Regions from separate parts of the Homo sapiens genome. Here region 1 is linked to region 2. Evidence: fine-mapped expression QTL. A gene starts in region 2. The other region holds a variant in brackets. All regions are shown on one strand. Distances are between the middles of the regions.

Region 1 (5,370 bases), 120 kb before region 2:
GCGCCCTCTTTGGTGACTTCATCTACAGCCACCATCTAAACACTAATGACTCCTATTTCTGTGTGTCCAGACCTAAATTTCCTGTCTCTTGCACTTATCCACCTTGATATCTCACAAGTACTTCACACTCATCATGCCCCAAAATGAACTCATCTTTGCCCCCAAACCTGCTCTTCCTCCACTCCTTATCTCTGTGAATAGTAATACCATGCCCCAGTTACCAATTCCAGTTCAATCTCTCCCTCATGCCTCACATCCAGTGAGTCATCAGGTCCTGATGATGCTGCCTCTAATATCTCTCTTCCCTTCTTCATTCTCATGTCTCAGTTTAGCTGCTCATCATTTCTTGCCTGGACTGTTGCGGCAGCCCCCAACTGCTCTCCACACCTCCAGACTCTGCCGCTCTAATCCATCTTCCACACAGCAGCCAGAGATCTGACCACGGCACTCCCCACTTGAAAACCCTTTGGTGGCTCCCTTTTGCCCTCAGAATAAAGGCCTAATTTGAGGGGCTCGATAAAGGGTATTGGAGGTACTTCATAGTAGGCCCCCTCCTTCCCTCACACACACACTCACATGTACTCCAAACCTCAGCCACACTGAACATCTCACAGTGTTACACACCACTGTGGCGCCCAGTGTTTACTAGGTGCTCAGTAGGTGTTTATTGAAAGTATGGTTTGAAAGAAAAATACAACTATTATATATTAGTTTTTAAAAAGTGTTATGGAAGAAAAAGAATGGTTTGAGTTCTTTATGAAATCCACGTATGAATACTCATGAAATATCTGCTCTTGTACTTTGCGGGTATCTCAGAGGAAGAAAATGACCTTGTACTAGAAAGGATCTTTGATAGTTTAAAGACTGTATGGTAACGTCAACACAATAAGATATTGGTGCTCCTTTGGAATTAAAACTTCTGTGGCACTACAAAAAAACTCATTTGGCTTTAGGAGCCTTGTAATAATGGCATCTTTTAAAACCATTCTGGGGTTATTTAAAGTGATACAACCCACTTGGAGCAGAGCTAGGATTAAACTTTTTTTTTTTTTAACTAAAATACATTTTTAGCACAGCCTAACACAGAAGCCAAGTAGATAAAAGGGATGGAGATGGAGCCGCTCTGCTTGATGGAGATAGGGATTCACAACCTGCCTACTCACTAGCCCCCTTATTCCCTGCAGCAGCTTCCTAAGGCACTTCCAAGAAATCCCTAGGTTAGCTCAGAGGAGAAAACCACTGTTTTAGTAAAGGGACTCAGTGCTGGAGTCAGGATATCTGGGTTCTTGGGGAAGATTCTGCCCCAGAGTAAAGACAACTCTGGCCAAGTCCTTTCTCCTCTCTGGGGCCTCAATCTCATTGATTGTGAATAGGAGGCTGGGATTAGATGATCTTGGAACTGCTTTCCAGTTGAAATTCTATTTCTAGCCCCCTTGACCCTGGCCTTTCTTACTGGCCTGTATGGCCACCGACTCAGCTCTTCCTTATTTTCAGGACAACATCAACTTGCTGCTTACTGAGGAGGAAATGTATAGCCTCACGGAGACCTTTCAGCGGTGTAAAGTCATCCCTGGTAAGGTTGGGTGGTGCTGCATGGATGGAGAGGGGCCGGGCAGATTTCTCCTTCAGGCTTTCTAGAATGAACCATGAAAGGAGTGTTCCATATTTAGTGGGTAGAGGGTAAATGAGTCCTTGTTCCTGAGTTGTTGGCCAGCAGAGTCACCTATCCCTGTCACAGCCTGGGTGACCCTGGCCATGGGAGGCAGAGACTTAGCAAGAGCTGTGGGTTTGGGGGCCCCGAGGGTGCCCTGGAGGTGATGGAGGTGCCCTGAGGCTGAGGAAGGATGGGCATGGCTAGCACGGGGTGCCTCCCACAGATTGCTCCCTGACACTGGAGGACTTTCTGCGTTACCGCCACCAAGCAGCCAAGCGGGGGGACCGTGACAGGGCCCTGAGTGAGGAGCAAGAAGAGCAGGCGGCCCGCCAGTTTGCTGCCCTGGACCCTGAACATCGAGGCCACATAGAGTGGCCTGACTTCTTGTCCCATGAGTCCCTCCTGCTTCTGCAGCAGTTGCGTCCCCAGGTGAGGGCCAGTTGGGGCAAATGTTCCTGGGATACTGGGTGACAAGGGCCTGGGAGGCACGCTGGGCAGATTGGGGGAGCACTGGGTCCTGCTCAAGCAGGGACAAGTATCAGGAATGGGCTCAGGTTCCATCCAGTGACAGATGATCTGGTGCCCAGGCTGAGGAAACTGCGTGAGGAAGACTGATCTGCCCTGGGCCGCACTGGAAGTGCTGATGCCTCCAGAAGGGCTCTGGGCAGCTTCTAAGGGAGGTTGCAAAGGTGGTAATGGAGATAGGATTCTCTATGGCTTGGCAGTTTACAAGATATCTTCACCTCTAAGATCTTGTCTCTTCTTCCCCAGAACTCTCTGTTGAGGCTTCTGACAGTGAAGGAGCGGGAGCGAGCCCGAGCCGCCTTCCTGGCTCGGGGCAGTGGGAGCACCGTCAGTGAGGCAGAGTGCCGCCGGGCCCAGCACTCTTGGTTTTGCAAACGGTTCCCAGAGGCTCCTTCCTGCAGTGTCAGGTCTGCTCCTTACCAGTCCTGGTCCCCACTCAGCCTCTCCTCCTCCCTTTTCCATGCCAGTGGCCCTTCCATACCTCCCTGCTCCCCCTGCCAACAGCCGAGAGAGGAGCCTCCTGTGCATTAGGTAGAGGATGGTGATGCCTACGGGCCAGGGCATAGGACAGCCTCTGCCTTCAACTCGGTGTTGCCACATGTCAGAAGAGCCTGGATGAGCATGTCCAGAGCCTTGGGCTTACCAGAGTTTGGGAGGGGGCAGGCATTTCACTATCCCACTCCTAACCACGTGTCCTCATGCCCAGCAGCATCAGCCATGTGGGTCCCATCGCAGATAGCAGCCCAGCCAGCAGCAGCAGCAAGAGTCAGGACAAGACCCTGCTGCCCACAGAGCAGGAGTCCAGGTGAGTAGGACCTCCTCACCTGGCCATTTGTACCCTCTGAACCCCCACAAAACACACAAGTAAGAGAGGGCATTACCCACTCCCACTCCAAAACAGCAAGCGCCCACCCAAGAAACCAGG[C/T]TCCAAGAGTGCACATTTGACCCAAGTCTATAGGACCAGCCAGCTGGTCTGTTGGCCTGGTAGCACAGCCAGCCATAGCCAGGTCAGGCATGAGCCAAGCTTCCCTGAGTTTTGTGTAGCTCAAGCCATGCTGCCCCTGGGATCAGGGCTCACGCGTCTTCAAACCAGCCTCCTCAAGCCATGCTGCCCCTGGGATCAGGGCTCACGTGTCTTCAAACCAGCCTCACGACTCTGTTCTTTGCTTCCACTCCAGATTTGTGGACTGGCCTACCTTCCTGCAAGAGAATGTCCTCTACATCCTGGCTGCTCGCCCCAACAGCGCAGCCATTCACCTGAAGCCCCCAGGATAGCATGGAGCAGAGAAGCTCGGTTTGAGGACAGTGACATCCTCTCCCTCCTTTCCTTTCTCCCTTCCCCCACCAACCTCTGGCACAGAGACTCATGGGGTTGGGACACTGCCAGCGTCTTAACTTGTCACTAAGCTTTAAGGCACTGAAATCACCATTCCCCTCACAATAGAGGCAGTGAATGCATTGCCACAAGGAGAAGCCCTGGGAGCTGTGGCAGCATCCTCTCCTGGACCGCCCCTGCCCCACATCATAGACGGGACCTGCCACCACACTTATATACATGTGCACATGCTGCCCAGCTGTCCATGCCTTCAGAAGCCTGGTTCTTTTTGGTTGAGAAAGGACCAAAGTCCCTTTGTGAAGCCCCTGGTATAGAGGAGGGGGTCTCTACTCACCCCTTCTATAGGCAGGCCAGTTCTAATTTCCAATAGATAAGTCTCTGGCCAAGTGATTCTTAGGAAGGGGGCATGTCAGACTCGCATGCCTGCCTAGAGCTCCTGGAGATCCTAATGGGCCCCGCTTTCTCCACCAAAAATCCCTTCTGCAGTCAGCTGCTGTTACTAGTAGGTGTGCATTATGTACCTCGGCTGTACTGAGTTGGGAAAAGAGTTAAACATCACCACTGAAATTCAGCCCTTTATTTATTTAAATTCCAATTCCTGGTGACAGAAAAGGCAACTAGCCTGGAGAATCCTGACTGGAAGAGGGGGAGGCAGCCCTTCCCAGGGACTCGGGATTCTAGGAACCTCTCAGTCAGGTCACCTGAGTCCAAAAGTCTTTAGCAGGGTAGTCAAAAATCAAGGTGAGCCTTCTTGGCCCCATTTTTCAGATGGTAGCTCATGGCCTAGGGCCAAGGGGGCCTGAATGGAGCAAACACACTGGCAGGAGCCACAGCCCTCTGTGTTAGATGCTTCACCCAAGTCACCGACCACAGAGACTGACGAGAGCACACTCTGGAGGAAGAGGAGAGAACGGGGCTCTGCTTCCTCATCATTCCAGCTCAACTCAACTGTAGACACCTTCCACAGCCCAAGAAAGATCTGCAGAGCCCTGAGCAGGGACTCTTTCAGCCATCCTGACAAACAGGATAAGAGGCTGGGGCTTAAGAAGAGGCTCTGCAGAGAAGGTCCTGGGAAAGCCTTACAGAAGAAGTTTTCCGCTTCTCCCTATCACTGAGACTCGGCTTGAGTGGCTGCTTCTCCTCACTGCTCATCACATGTCCTTCCCCAGCAGGCTAGGGCTTGGGCCTGGCATGGAAGGCCTTTTGGGGCAATCAGAGGCTGCCACAAGAGCACCAAGCCTGGCCTCCAAGCCCCAGCCCTCCTTCCTAAGTACTCATCAAATTCAAATTCTTCAGTCCGTGTGTTATGGCTCATCTTGGCCGGCCGTGGGGTCCATGTTCTAGGCTTCTGTTTCCAACTTAATGACTTAGGCATAGCGAGATCTGACTACCAAGAGTTATTCAAAAGGGAGTGGAGTGCAGTCATGCAGAAGCAAACACGTCTTCATTGCTCGAGGCCCTTGTGCTAAATCGGGTGCGTACAGAAGAACACACACCGCTCGGTGCTGAATGTTTCGAGGAAAGCAAGGAGCTGCGGCCAGGGGCTTCTTGAGAGCCCTGTGTAGTCTCCTCCTGTAGGAACCACCTTAGCTGGAAGCAGGGTGGTGAGCTGCTGGGGTTGGATTATTTGGGACTGAAATGAAGCAGACAGGAGACAAATCTGGGCTCAGGTGTATGGCCCACAGCTTTTAGAAATGCTCTTCAGCCGTCCCCCAGGATTGATCCATAGGAGGGGCCATTATTCAGTCTAGTCAAAACAAGAAAGCGCAGGACTCCTGGGCCTAAGAACTGCATCTGAAGCAGCCAGGCCTGGGGTTTTGCACTGAGATGAAAGCACATTAAGCACAGGGGCTCT
Region 2 (5,297 bases):
CATTCACCACTGTCCACTGTGAAGGGGAGAACACTGAGCACAGAAGACTAAGACCCACTCCTCAACCCCAGCCAGGCTTTGACACTCCTCTATGTCCAGGGATACAAGCCCAGGCTGTTACACCCATAGGTGGCTCAGAATTTGTGGACTAAAGCAGTTCTCCCCAGCTCCCAGTCTTAGAACTAAGTGCTCTGGCCCCATGCTCACTGGTGGGGTAGAGGTGTTCCAGGATGCCATTGTCCACTGTGTCTAGGTCTCTGACATTGAAGGATGGGAAGAAGAAAGCTTTGGAGAAAGCACCAGGGAAAAGGTCTTTCCAGGTATCATCTCCCATGAAGACTACACGCCTTCCTGCAGGGACATGAAAGAGAAGTCAGAGCCTGAGCAAACGTCAGGGTTAGGAGAAAAGAGGAAAAGAGGCCCTTTAAAGACCCATCAGAAGTCCCAACCATGCAACCTAAAGTACAGCAATTCCATACAGCAATCCTTATCCTTCAGGGCCTAACATTTTCCACCAGGAAGCTTTCCCTGATAACCGTACTCCACCCAGACCTCACACTTATCCTTCCTACAAAATGCTCTCCTAGTTCTGTCTCTGGGTATCTCTACTGAGTTGTTTTTCCTGGGTGTATCCTGCTTCTTCCCAGTCAGTGAATGAACAGGGCCTGTATTTCTCTGCTTTCTTCTCCACACTTGCAAGCCAAGATCCACATCTTCTCTTCTTCCCTTCTCCCTTTTACTGAGAGGTCTCCAAGAATAAAACTTACACTCCATTCAGATTAGAAGCTTCATAGGAACAAAGCCCAGATCCCTTCTCCTCTGTCTCCCAAACTGAGCTCCCTACCAGCAGGGCCCTGGCCTCTTTCTTCTCCTCTGTCCCCCAAACTGAGCTCCCTACCAGCAGGGCCCTGGCCTCTTTCTTCTCCTCTGTCCCCCTACACCATAATCAAGTGTGCATCTGGGCACCCAAAGGTCTGACTCCCTGACTTCAAATTTTGAAGAAATTTGCCAAGGTACTTCTGGCCTTCAAAGTGGCCCACACTGACCTGCACTGGTGAGCTGCTTAATGAGATTGTCTTCCACTATGGCGTGGCTGGCGAAGTTACTACCAGCATCAATAAAGGTAGGCAGTGAGCCAGTGGTGAGGGCCTTGAGGCGCTGCATGGTGGTGGTAGGAGGGTCAACCTGAGATCGGTAGAGCCGGGCATGGTGGGGCTGAATCTCCAGGATCCTCTGCAAGGAGCTTAGTTTGCCCAGGAAGGGTAGGGAGACAGGAGGCTCTCTAGGCACGTGTGAATGCTGGGGCTGGGCGAAGTCAAATCGCAGAGCATCTATCAGCACCAACACAACCCGCGAAAATCGGGAAGCCATCCAGCAGGCCCCAGGTTTCCCTTGGCTCCCCCATGGCAGGGACCCAGGGCCTGGGGGCTCTTGGCAGCTGCTATGGTTGGTGAGCTCCAAACGGGTGAGCAGGAAGCCACTGGTGAAGAGGGCAATGCCAGCGTAGAAGAGGAAGCAGACCCAGGCCAGGAAGAGCAACACTGAGGCTTTCTGCATCCTGATAGGGGTGGGGAAGTAAATTCATTACTGTGGGGCAAAGAACCAGTGGATATTCTGGTCCCTGAATACAAGCCCAGCTAGAATCACTTCCTCCCGGAAACCTTCCTGGAGATAAACCATTTCACAGCCAACCCCTCGCAATATTACTCTCCTCCTATTTCCAGGCTGGGCATGGTGGCTCACGCCTGTAATCCCAGCACTTTGGGAGGCCGAGGCGGGCGGATCACCTGAGGTGAGGAGTTCGAGACCAGCCTGGCCAAAATGGCGAAACCCCGTCCCTACTAAAAATACAAAAATGGGTGGCGGGCACCTGTAGTCTCAGCTACTGGGGAGGCTGACGCAGGAGAATCGCTTGAATCGGGGAGGCGGAGGTTGCAGTGAGCCGAGATTGAACCACTGCACTAGAGTCTGGACAACAGAGGGAGACGCCGTTTCATGAGGTCCCACCCCAGATCTACTGAATCAGGATCTTCGAGGGGTAGAGCATAGGAACGTTCACATGTACAGGCAGGAAATGCTAATGCTGCCTGTACATGTGAACAGTCAGGAGGGAAACTTATTCCAATTGGTAGTCAGGCTCTCTTACACGCCGTTTCTGCGCCTCTCCCCTCGCCAATCTCAATACCCAGTGGAAAGGGATCGAAGCCGCAGGGGAATCCGGGCCCAGCCGACGGCGCCGCCTGGCGGGCACCGAGGGGACGAAGGGGAGGAGTCACTCTCCGCTTCCGGGCGGCCAGGTTCGCCAGGAGACCTGAGGCACGACCTTCGCCACGCAAGGAGGCTGGGGCCCGGGTCGAGAGTCGACTGGGCCTCCGCTGGGACCCAGGCGTGCGACCGGCTCTGCCTCCTCCGGTAACTACCCAGCCTCCCGCTGGGCACCCTAGCCGCGGTACTGAGCACCTTGGTTAGGAGCTGAGGGGAAGAGGGAGACTCCCTTACTTCAGGGTGAGGGGAATACCGGGGGGTGAGGTTCTCGGGAGACCCTGGCTCACCTGCAATGGCACCCGGAAGTGCGGCGGCGGCGGCGCCTGCGACCTGGCAGCACAGAGATGCGTGCGCCAGACAGAGTGGCCCGTCGGTGGCTCCATCGCCATCTGCCGGCACCTCGGTGGAAGTTTGGCCAGGAGCGTGGGGCTGGCCCCAGTTTGATGGGATATTTAGTAATTGAAAATTGGGGACAGGGGACCAAGCTGGAGGAAGAGTTCAGGGAACCACTGTCCATTCATGGTTACGACTAAGAGCACGGCTGCTGGAGTCAAACTTGACTTGAATCCTAGCTTGGCCGCACATATTGTCATCATTAGGCATTACCTCATCTGTAAAATGGAGATAATACTTATTTTCCCTTTTTTGCTTAGCTGAGTCCAACTGAGATTTCATTACTCCTCCTTTCAAAGCCTGTAACTAAATCTTACGACTGAATAATTAAGCAAATAATCCTTCGGAGTGGAGGAGGGGAGGCTGGGCCCAGTGGTTCACACCTGTAATCCCAGCACTTTGGGAGGTCAAGGCAGGTGGATCACCTAAGGTCAGGAGTTCAAGACCAGCCCGGCCAATATGACGAAACGCCGTCTCTACTGAAAATACAAAAGTTACCCGGGAGTGGTGGCGGGCGCCTGTGATCCCAGATACCTGGGAGGCTGAGGCAGGAGAATCACTCGAACCCAGGAGGCAGAGGTTGCAGTGAGCCGAGATTGCACCACTGCACTCCAGCCTGGGCAACAGAGCAAGACTCCCTCTCAAAAAAAAAAAAAAAAATGCCAGGCACGATGACTCACACCTGTAAGCCCAGCACTTTGGGAGGCTGAGGCTGGAGAATCAGTTGAAGTCAGGAATTGGAGACCAGCCTGGCCAACATGCTGAAACCCCAACTCTACTAAAAATTACAAAATTTAGCCAGGCGTGGCGATGTGTACCTGTAGTCCCAGCTACTGAGGAGGCTGAGACTGGACAATTGCTTGAAGCCAGGAGGCAGAGGCTACAGTGAGCTGAGATCGTGCTACTGCACTCCAGCCTAGGCAACAGAGCAAGACTCTGTCTCAAAAAGAAACAAAACCCGTCCACTGGTTTCTCATCTCAGAGTAAAAGTTCTTGCATTGGCTCTACATGGCCCTGCACACTATCTGCCTCTTCCCCTTCTGATTCATCTAGCTGCCACTTCTTTGCTTCCCTAACTCTGTTCCATCCACAGCAGTTCTGCCTCAGGACCTTTGCATTTGCCATCTCCTCTGTCAGCTTCAGTTCCCGATGCCGAAATGGATCTCCATCACCTTCATATTGAAGCTCAACTGTAACATCAGCAAGGCTTCCTGCAATCCCCTACTTTACTAGTTCAGCACCTCCCACCACCACACCCCCTGGAAAAATTTCCCCTCACTTCCTTAATTTCTTCCATAGCACAACTCATCAGCATCTGAAATTCTACACGTATTTATGGTTTATCCCCTCCGAGTAGAATGTGAGCTCATTGAGGTCAGGGAATTCTGTTTTCTTCATGATATCCTCAGCACCTAGCATATATTTGAGGTTCACATACTGACCAAACGAATAAAGGAATATGTTAATTTTTAAAAAAAGTTGAGTTATTCTTCCACCTTCATCCCCATAGCCCCTTATCTCAGTTCAGACCTCATCCCTTCTCCAGGATCACTGAGGCAGCCTTCTCACTGTCCTCCCAGCCTCCTGTGTCTCCCTACTATCCCTTCTCCACATTGCAGCAAGACAGCTCTAACTAAAACATTAATGTGATTACTGTTATTTTTTTCTTTTTTGTAGAGATAGGGTCTTACCATGTTGCCCAGGCTGGTCAACTCCTGGGCTCAAGTGATCCTCCCACCTCAGCCTCCCAAAGTGCTGGGATCACAGGTATGAGTCACTGTGCCTGGCCAATGTGATGTTTTATCTTAAAATTCTTCATGGGAAGGGAAAAAAACCCTTCATAGGCCGGGCACAGTGGCTCACGCCTGTAATCCCAGCACTTTGGGAGGCTCAGGCGGGCAGATCACGAGGTCTGGAGTTCGAGATCAGCCTGACCAACATGGTGAAACCCTGTCTCTACAAAAAACAAAAAAATTAGCCAGGTATGGTGGCGCATGCCTGTAATCCCAGCTACTAAGGAGGCTGAGGCAGGAGAATTGCTTGAACCCGGGAGGCGGAGGTTGCAGTGAGCCGAGATCATGCCATTGCACTCCAGCCTGGACAACAGAGGGAGACGCTGTCTCAAACAAACAAACAAAAAAACCCTATTACCCTAGGGATAATGTCCAACCCCTTCAACAAGAATCTCATTCCTTGTGACTTGGCCCTTGCCATGTAGTCACATCCCCCTTAACACTATACCCTTCAGCCAACTTCTCTCAAGCAGTGAGCCTTTGTTTATTCTAGTCCAGGACCTGACTTGGTGAAAACTTGCTAACTTTTCCAGCCTGAGTTCAGTGGCAATCAGCAACGCTGCTACTCATAAGCTGATATGCTCTTCCCACCAAGATCCCTCAGCCAGAACTTTCCTCTACCACAGCATTTATCACTTTTTTTTTTTTTTTTAACAGAGTGTCTCACTGTTGCCAGGCTGGAGTGCAATGGCGTGATCACGGCTCACTGCAGCCTCCACCTCCCAGGTTCATGCAATTCTCCTGCCTCAGCCTCCCAAGCAACTGGGACTACCCGCACATGCTACCACGCCCAGCTAGTTTTTGTATTTTTAGTAGACGGGGTTTCACCATATTGGCCAGGATGGT

What was found. PIP is the estimated chance that this variant, and not a neighbour inherited with it, causes the effect.
Region 1: its variant is fine-mapped to the expression of PIGO in lung (TOPMed, PIP 0.98).

What each region holds. Positions count from the first base shown.
Region 1 is chr9:34,974,658-34,980,027 of GRCh38, forward strand. PHF24 (PHD finger protein 24) reads left to right here. Exons shown (of 8, transcript NM_015297.3): 4 at 1,495-1,573; 5 at 1,878-2,083; 6 at 2,426-2,586; 7 at 2,889-2,984; 8 at 3,358-5,370. The coding sequence ends at 3,454. Among named protein-coding and RNA genes, the nearest start is that of DNAJB5-DT, 12 kb to the right of the region's middle. The variant C/T (reference allele first, on the strand shown) is at 3,105.
Region 2 is chr9:35,094,009-35,099,305 of GRCh38, forward strand. PIGO (phosphatidylinositol glycan anchor biosynthesis class O) reads right to left here and starts at 2,583. Exons shown (of 11, transcript NM_032634.4): 1 at 2,147-2,583; 2 at 1,047-1,558; 3 at 208-351; 4 at 1-16. The coding sequence starts at 1,557. PIGO-AS1 (PIGO antisense RNA 1) reads left to right here and starts at 2,296. Exons shown (of 2, transcript NR_186491.1): 1 at 2,296-2,412; 2 at 3,752-4,136. RefSeq lists an enhancer at 2,250-2,589.